Linked DNA regions of Homo sapiens: region 2 is linked to region 1. The links come from fine-mapping of genetic effects on gene expression. Tissue or cell type: whole blood. Region 1 holds a variant in brackets; the other region holds the start of a gene. Each region is shown on its reference strand, or each on the opposite one. Region 1 has its middle 12 kb from the start of RHBDD2. Region 2 holds the start of CLC (Charcot-Leyden crystal galectin).

Region 1 (4,266 bases):
TATGTTGCCAAGGCTGGTCTTGTACTCCTGGACTCAAGAGATCCTCCTGCATCAGCCTCCCAAAGCAATGTGATTACAGGCATGAACCACTGTGCCTGGCCTGTTTCAAAATATATATATATTTGAGACAGGGTCTCTCTCTGTCACCCAGGCTGGAGTGTAGTGTTGTGAACATAGCTCACTGTAGCCTCGAACTCCCAGGCTCAAGTGATCCTCCCACCTCAGCTTCCCAAAGTGCTGGGATTACAGACATGAGCCACTGTGCCTAGCCTCTCCTATACCTTTTAAAGCCTTTTGTTATTTGTGTAACATACTATAATCACTGTTAGGAACCTTGCCTCTCTCAATAAAATATTTTAGGTAGCATTCTGTATGGATACTAGCTTCCTTAGTTTGGGGTTTTTTTTTTTTTTTGGTTTTATGACTGCAGAGGATTACTTCAAAAGGACACACCATAATTTATTGGCCAGGCATGGTGGCTCATGCCTGTAATCCCAGCACTTTGGGAGGCTGAGGTGGGTGGATTACCTGAGGTCAGGAGTTTGAGACCAGCCTGGCCAACGTGGTGAAACCCCGTCTCTACTAAATACAAAAAATTAGCAGGTCATGGTGGCACACACCTGTAATCCCAGCTATTTGGGAGGCTGAGGCAGGAGAATCGCTTGAATCTGGGAGGCGGAGGTTGCAGTGAGCTGAGATCCCACCACAGCAATATGTCTCAAAAAAAAAAAAAAAAAGGACGCGCCATAATTTATTAATCATTCCCACATTGATCGACATCTGGGTCATCTCTAATCATTTATTCTGGCAGTCAATGCTGCAATGAATAACTTCTTAAACCACTTTGCACTTAAGCAAGGATATCTACAAGTTAGAATCCTAGAAGTGAAATTGATCAAATATATGTACATTTGTCATTTTGATAGATATTGTCAGATTCCCTTCTATAGAAATTGCACCCAGCTGGGTGCGGTGGCTCATGACTGTAATCCCAGCCTTTTGGGAGGCCAAGGCAGGTGGATCACCTGAGGTCAGGAGTTCGAGACTAACCTGACCAATATGGTAAAAGCTCGTCTCCACTAAAAATACAAATATTACCCAGGTGTGGTTGTGGGTGCCTGTGGTCCCAGCTACTTGGGCGGCTGAGACAGGAGAATTGCTTGAACCCAGGAGGCAGAGGTTGCAGTGAGCCGAGATCGCGCCACTGCACTCCAGCCTGGGTGACAGAGGGAGACTCCATCTCAAAAAACAAACAAACAAAAATTAGCCAGCCGTGCTGGCGTGCACCTATAATCCTAGCTACTCAGGAGGCTGAGGCAGGAGAATCACTTGAACCTGGGAGATGGAAGCTGCAGTGAGCCGAGATTGCACCACTGCACTCCAGCCTGGGTGACAGAGCGAGAGTCGGTCTCAAAAAAAAAAAAAAAAATTGCACCCATTTTCGATCTCATCAGCAATGTTTTTGAGTGCTTGTTTCCCATTCCTTCGAAAATATAAATGGGTCATTAGTCATTACCCTCCCAGCTTAACCTCTCTAAGCAACTTCCCACTGTCCTTGGAAACAGCATCTACTTTCCTCGCCATGGCCTCCAAGGGCTTGCCTACACTATTTGACTCCTGCCTGTCTCGCTTCCC[A/G]TGCCCTGCTGAAGGCAAGTGTTGGACACATCTAAGGGATGCCAGCCAGCAGGGTTGGGAGGGAGTTGGCATTTCTTCCCAAGGGGATGTGTGCTTGGGCAGTGGACCTGCAGACTGTGCCCATCCTATGAATGTGGGGAAAGAGAGCATGGCACATGAATGCTAGGGAAGGCAGGCTGCAGTTTCATAACTTTGGGGGATTGCCCGAAGGTACGATGGACCTGGGGAAATTGGGGCATTGGGGTGCCTGTTTAAAGCCATCGTCTGTAAGTGAGCCATGTCACAGGCCAGCCAGCAGAGGACAGTATTCTGCTTTGGGATGAGGCCATTTCTCCATCAGACCAGAGGAAGCCAAACCCAGCTGTCCATCTACCACGGGGCAGTGAGGACCCGGCGTGGGGGCTGCAGAGCAGTTAAATGAGCCGGAGTCCGCAGCTGGCAACCAACCCCTGCGTTCTACCGATGACAGCCTCCTGTTGAACAAGGAGCCGCACTGCTCCCTGGGGCACGGGCCTGAGAAGCTGGGACCACCCGGGGTTGGGGGCTGGAGGGACCTGATGTCCTGCTCCCCTGGGATGCCCAGGTGGTGGATGAGGTCCAGGTCCCACCCAACCCTCAACCATTCCATCCCTGCAGTCATTCCGTGCCTTCCCAAGGTGTCTGCAGATGTGCAGTGGAGGTTGGGGGTCAATCCAGGAACCACCCGAGAACTGGCTAAGTGGGATGCCTGGCACTGGTCCCAGAGCTGTCTCAGCTGTGCAAAGTGAGATATCACCTTCTAAACCCTACGATGCACCTGTAAAGGGAAAATGTGAAATCTCAGAACCCCCGAAACTTATGCCACAGGGAAAGCTAAGCTTAAAGGCTGAGTCACGCAACACACTCTCTCTCTGTCTGTCTGTCTATCTGTCTGTCTGTCTCTCTCTCTCTCTCTCTCTCTCTGTGTGTGTGTGTATGTTAGACAGGGTCTTGCTCTGTCACCCAGGCTGGAGTGCAGTGACGCAATCATGGCTCACTGTTGCAGCCTGGACCTCCTGGGCTCAAACAATCCTCCCTCCTCAACCTCCCAAAGTGCTGGGATTACAGGCATGAGCCACTGCACCCAGCCGGGAAGAAGTATTGATACAAGCAACAACATGATGAATGTCAGATCATCTGGCTGAGTGAACGAAACTAGGCCAAAACCACAAGTGCATATTATACGATTCCATTCATATAACATTTTAGAAAATCTAAACGAATCTACAGTGACACAAAGCAGCCATTGGTTGCCTGGGGATAAAGAAGGCAGGGATTATAGAGTAGAAGGGATTATAGAGGGGTGAGATATAATTTTTGGGGGTGGTGGGTATGTCATTATCTAAATTGTGGTGATAGTTTCATGGGTGTGTGTATATATATATGTATGTATATGTATATATATGTGTATATATGTATGTATATGTATATATGTGTATATATATGTGTGTATATATATATGTCAAAATGTATCAAAATCTATACTGTAATTATATGTAGTTTATTGTAAGTAAATCAAACCTTTTTGGTTTTTTCAAGATGGAGTTTCATTCTGTTGCCCAGGCTGGAGTGCAGTGGCACAATCTTGGCTCACTGCAACCTCCACCTTCTGGGTTCAAGCGATTCTCTTGCCTCAGCCTCCCGAGTAGCTGGGACCACAGGTGCCTGCCACCACACCTGGCTAATTTTTGTATTTTTAGTAGAGACGAGGTTTTGGCATGTTGACCAGGCTGGTCTTGAATTCCTGACCTCAAGCAGTCCTCCTGCCTTGGCCTCCCAAAGCGCTGGGATTACAGGAGTGAGCCACCACACCCGGCCTCAGTAAATAAAATTTTAATAAAACTTTTTTTTTTAATGCCAATATAGTCATGTCTGTAATCCCAGTGCTTTGGAAGGCCAAGGCAGGAGGATTGCTTGAGGCCAGGAGTTCGAGACCAGCCTGGGCAATATAGCTAGAACTTCTGTTTACCAAAAAAATGCTGATGTGTCAAAAATAAATATTTTTCATCACTGGCTCAAATTTTAATATCTTCCTTTGCCATGTATACTGCATGAGGTGGGGAATGGGGGAATGGAATAATTTGGGAAAGTAAAGATGATCAAGGCTCAGTGTTAATTCTACAATATATTGCTTTCATTGCCTTAACCATGCATGCTTATTACAGCAAAGTCAGAACAAGGTTGAGACGGGGTCTCGCCGTGTCGCCCAGGCTGGAGTGCAATGGCGTGATCTCGGCTCACTGCAGCCTCTGCCTCCCAGGTTCAAGCAATTCTCCTACCTCAGCCTCCTGAGTAGCTGGGATTACAGGCGCGTGCTACCACGTCCGCCTAACTTTTTGTATCTTTAGTAGAGACGGGGTTTCACCATGTTGGCCAGGCTGGTCTCGAAGTCCTGACCTCGTGATCCACCTGCCTCGGCCTCCCGAAATGCTGGGATGACAGGCGTGAGCCACAATGCCCAGCCTATAACATTTTTATAAATGTTTTTGAGTGAATGGAGAAATTAATTACTCTGTTCTGTGATGCTTGGTGTTTGTCAGCTTTAAATCCCCCATAGCACTCAGATCTTAGAGACAGAACTTTGGTCTTTATGGGTGAATTACAACCAATTCC
Region 2 (4,532 bases), not on the chromosome of region 1:
GGTACTCTGCATCTTTTCTAACTTGAGATTGTGAGTTTTATTTTTTATTATCATTTTAACCACCAAAAAAAAAAAGAAAGAAAGAAACAACACTTGTTGAAAGAGAGAGGGAAACGAACAGGAAAGAACAGGAAACCCCTGTGCGTGGGAGGCACATACATCACAATCATCATGGGCAATGGACGTCCTTCCCAGAAGGGGCACACATTGCTGAGAGCACAACCGCAGTACTTGCACAAATGAAGATTGTGGGTCAGGGAAGTTATTGGCTAGAATCTATAAATGGATGGTATTTTTCTTTTTTGAAACAGGGTCACACTGTCACCTAGGCTGGAATGCAGTGGCACCATCAAAACTCACTGCAGGCTGGGCGTGGTGGCTCACGCCTGTAATCTCAGCACTTTGGGAGGCCAAGGTGGGTGCATCACTTGAGGTCAGGAGTTCGAGACCAGCCTGGCCAACATGGAGAAACCCCATCTCTACTGAAAATACAAAAATTAGCCAGGAGTGGTGGCACAAGCCTGTAATCCCAGCTACTCGGGAAGCTGAGGTATGAGAATCGCTTGAACCCGGGAGGTGGAGGTTGCAGTGAGCCGAGATTGCACCACTGCACTCCAGCCTGGGAAACAGAGCGAGACTCTGTCTCAAAAAAAAAAAAAAAAAATTACTGCAGGTTTGAAGGCCTGGGCTTCAGTGAACCTCTTGCATATGCCCCCCAGCAGCTGGAACTACGGTATGCAACACCACATTCAATAAATTTTTAAATTTTTGGAAAGATGAAATCTTGCTATGTCTCCCAGGCTGGTCTACCAGTCCTGGCCTGACATGGGCCTTTCAATTCGGCCACCCAAAGTGCTGAGACTACAGGCCTCAGCAAACATCTTGATGAATATCCACTGTAAGCTCTGCCTTGTACCTTCCTGGTTTTGGGTGATTCAGTCTCTTAAATCAAGTCCCTCAATGTCCTTCTCTAGCATCCTGGCACTCAATGGGAAGGCCAGGCTAGGGTAGGAGACAGGGAGAGACCTGAGGCTGGAGGCAGGAGCCAGTGGTCACTGTGTGCAGATTCCACCTAAGGAACCATCAGCCCCATCGTCTGTTTCTCACCCCCATTCTGCTTGGGAAAAGGCACCTGAGAATTCATGCATTCTGCTCTCATAAATGCTCAGAGATAAGTCCTCGGTAACTCAAGGGCCCCAAGATCCCACAAGTTCTGTCACCGGGGATCCACAGTGATGCACAAGGGAAGTTAGACAGAGTACTGCTATGTGGGGAGGAACCTTCACATGCACAGAAGGCCACATGCATGTTCCCAGTTCAACACCCAGTCACATTCCAGCACACACACTCACAGTCACACAGAGCCGTGCCACTCACTGAGTCACACACACCTGCTCACTGTGCATATAAAGATGCTCATGCACTGGTCCGGCTGTGCTCACACACACACTCACATCACAGTCATGAAGACAAAACACAGTCACCTGATTACAATCACTTACACACCCACCCATATCCTGGAGGGCCATACACATCCCGTCTAAAGTCACATCATTTTTAGCAGAGTTTACTCTCATCAGATACCATCACATGCTCACAGAGGGTCACAATGTTCCAGCATCCACACCCCCTACCCCCCTACCCCAGGAGCATCTCAGATACCATAGCCCTAGGGTCTCTCTTCCACACACCCACAACTCTCAGTAAAGCATTCACAGTAGAAATTTTCATATTTTCATCCCATAAAATCTCCCTCTTCCCTTTTCTGTGTGACCTGAGATTATTGAAGGCTGTGCCTTTTTAACTCACGGGTAGCAGGGACATTGTTGTCTCCTTCTGGGTGGCTCTTCTGAATTGTGTCCAGACTTCTGTGTGAATCTCTGAGCTGCAGAATTTAAATGGCCCCTATCAGCCCTGCCTCTGGCTTTATTCCTGATTCCAAGCCCCTCCCAGGAAGGTTTCCTCACACAGTGAGAAGGGGTGGGGTGTCAGAAACAGACTCAGTCACAACCACACCTGTTTGGAGGCCTGTGCCTGTGATGCAGCAGAAACGACAGTGAGGGAGGTACTGGAGGAGGAAGGGGTCACCAGGGAAATGCACAGATAAAGACGATGGAGTGAGGATGAGTGGTGTGAGTTCCAGCCTCCATGCTTCTCATGAAGCCTTTTCTCCACTGTGCAGAATCTACCAGGAAGGTGTGCGTTCTCCTAACCTGTGCAATGGTAAAAAGCTGGAGATCCTGGGGGCAAGGCACTTGGCTTTGAAAGAAAATCCTCCTCCTCCTTCTCCAGTGGTTCTGGGAGAGCATAGATCTTGATCATTCGCAGGACCTGGGGACAGAAGTAGAGAAAACACTTGTGTCTTCTTTACCCACCCTCAGATCCCTTGGCTCTGCCAGGTGAGAGCCACTCCCACTCTGTCTCTCAGACACCTGGGCTTTAGGTACGCCCTCTTATTTCCCTATTTCTTTTCATGTGAATCAAAATCTGAGGCTGTCGTTCTCCTGCAGATTCTTGGAGAAAGGTGAGATTTCTCACTCATAAGTGGGAGCTAAGCGATGAGGATGCATTAGCATTAATATTAGTTGTGCTTGACCCGACAATAAATTCCACTTTCCCTGATCTAAAACCTTGACAATTCATTTCCAAGCATGCACTCCAAGATTCTGCTCATATAAATCAGCACAATCACACAGTTCTTTTGGTATATAACGTATTTCCTTAAGATTAATTTGTAATGTCATCCCACTGCATTCCTTGGGTTTTGACTCTGGGTATGGACATGGAAGCAATGAAAAGGGTCAGAGGCCACAATTAAGGAGCTTTGGAAACCCCGTTCTAGGCAACCACCCTCACACCCTGCCCAGAACTGTAGCTTGTAAGAAATTACCACAGAAGGGAAAGAGGAACTGCTTTTCCTTGCAACAGATATGCAATAGAATTTTGAGTAATATCCCAGCTATTCATCTGAACTGGGGAAGAAATATCAGTTCAGGGCGTCTGGCCACCTAGTAAGCTGTGGATAAAGATGTTGATGTTATTTACTTCTCAGGCATTCCAGCAATCCTTTCAGTGATGCAGAGAGATTGATCTTCTTTAACTTCCATATCCTCTGCACAATAGCCCATACTTCTGCTGGTTGCAACTATTTCTTCAGAAATCCATTATGCCCTACGACTTGCTTTCAGTCTTTCTTTTCAACTACATCTTTCCAAGCACACACTGTTCCCCCGAAAAACTTTAGGTTTTGTGTATGAAATTATATAATATCTGGGATTTGCTCTAAAATAATCTGGGGATGACAGTTCTCTCCTTTTGCAAACATTTGAAATTTTTTACAGTACAGTTTTTAATTAAGTAGCCAGTACATAGACTATATATAAAAGAAAAACAAAATTATCAGTACTGGCATGGCTATATCTTCAAGAAATGCTGTAGTATGAAAAGGCATGAAGAAAACATGCATAATACGAGACCAATTATTTTAACGACAAAAAAATAAAATTGATCTCATAAGTACACACAAACATTCATAAATGCACTAGAAAATGTCAAAAGAAGGCATTCCTTGTAGGGGGGGACACTGGGTTTAGAAGAAATGAGGTCAAGGTATAAATCTGTAATGTTTGAATTTTACCCACAAGAAGGTATTATATTACTTAAATGATTTGTATAAACATTTTAAAAATAAAGGTCATAATACAGTTAAAATTTTTAAAAAATTTAATCACAGTTTGGAACCCAGCAACCATGCTTCTTGTTACAGAGCACTCTTTCTATTTTGTGTTCTGTTTTTCCTGTTCCTCCAGCGATGTTCTAACACTCTATACAGCAAGGTGGGTTTGCTCAGTCACCTCTCTATCCTGGAACATCCCTGCACCACATAAATTGCCTGTCACAAGGTAAGTGCTCAATAAATATTCATTGAATGCATAACTTTCAGTGCCATGGTTTTATGCCATGTAGTGATAACCGGTGTTTTCTTTTAAGAAGATCCGCATTTATTCCCTTTCTCCTTCCCTCCCTCCCTTCCTTTCTTTTATACAGAAACATCAGTGTGATTCCTGGCCTTTGTCTTTCCATCACACTCTTCACATGACTGACAGGACAACCCCATGCCTCTACTCTCACAGAATAGCCATAGCATGGCCACTTCTCATTGTCTGCCAGTTCACTGACAGCAGCTTTGTGTTTACTACTAAGTGTCTGGCTCACAGCAGATGCTCGATAACTCCATTTCTAAGAAATAAATATCTCTTCCTGTAACTTCTTCCTGCAATTCAAACCAGAGAGTATTTCTCAGGAATTATCAGTTGATTGAGTGGCAAGGTATGTCTGGACTATGCATTTCATTTGAATCTATTAATAGTTTTATGGCTAGAAGAGAAAATGAAACAAAAATGGATTTTCAGCTGGGTGGAAAAGTTCAGTCAGTAGAACAAGTGAGGGAACATTCTGGGGAACAGATGCAGAGTGTGGGCAGGCTGTCATTATGAGTGTGACAGTGTTTACCAGCTGAGCTGACCTTTGTT

Evidence for each region. PIP is the estimated chance that this variant, and not a neighbour inherited with it, causes the effect.
Region 2: it holds the start of CLC, and the variant in region 1 is fine-mapped to the expression of CLC in whole blood (TOPMed, PIP 0.95).

What each region holds. Positions count from the first base shown.
Region 1 is chr7:75,864,714-75,868,979 of GRCh38, forward strand. No RefSeq gene overlaps it. Among named protein-coding and RNA genes, the nearest start is that of RHBDD2, 12 kb to the right of the region's middle. RefSeq lists an enhancer at 1,818-2,112. The variant A/G (reference allele first, on the strand shown) is at 1,636.
Region 2 is chr19:39,736,129-39,740,660 of GRCh38, forward strand. CLC (Charcot-Leyden crystal galectin) reads right to left here and starts at 1,901. Exons shown (of 4, transcript NM_001828.6): 1 at 1,810-1,901. The coding sequence starts at 1,824.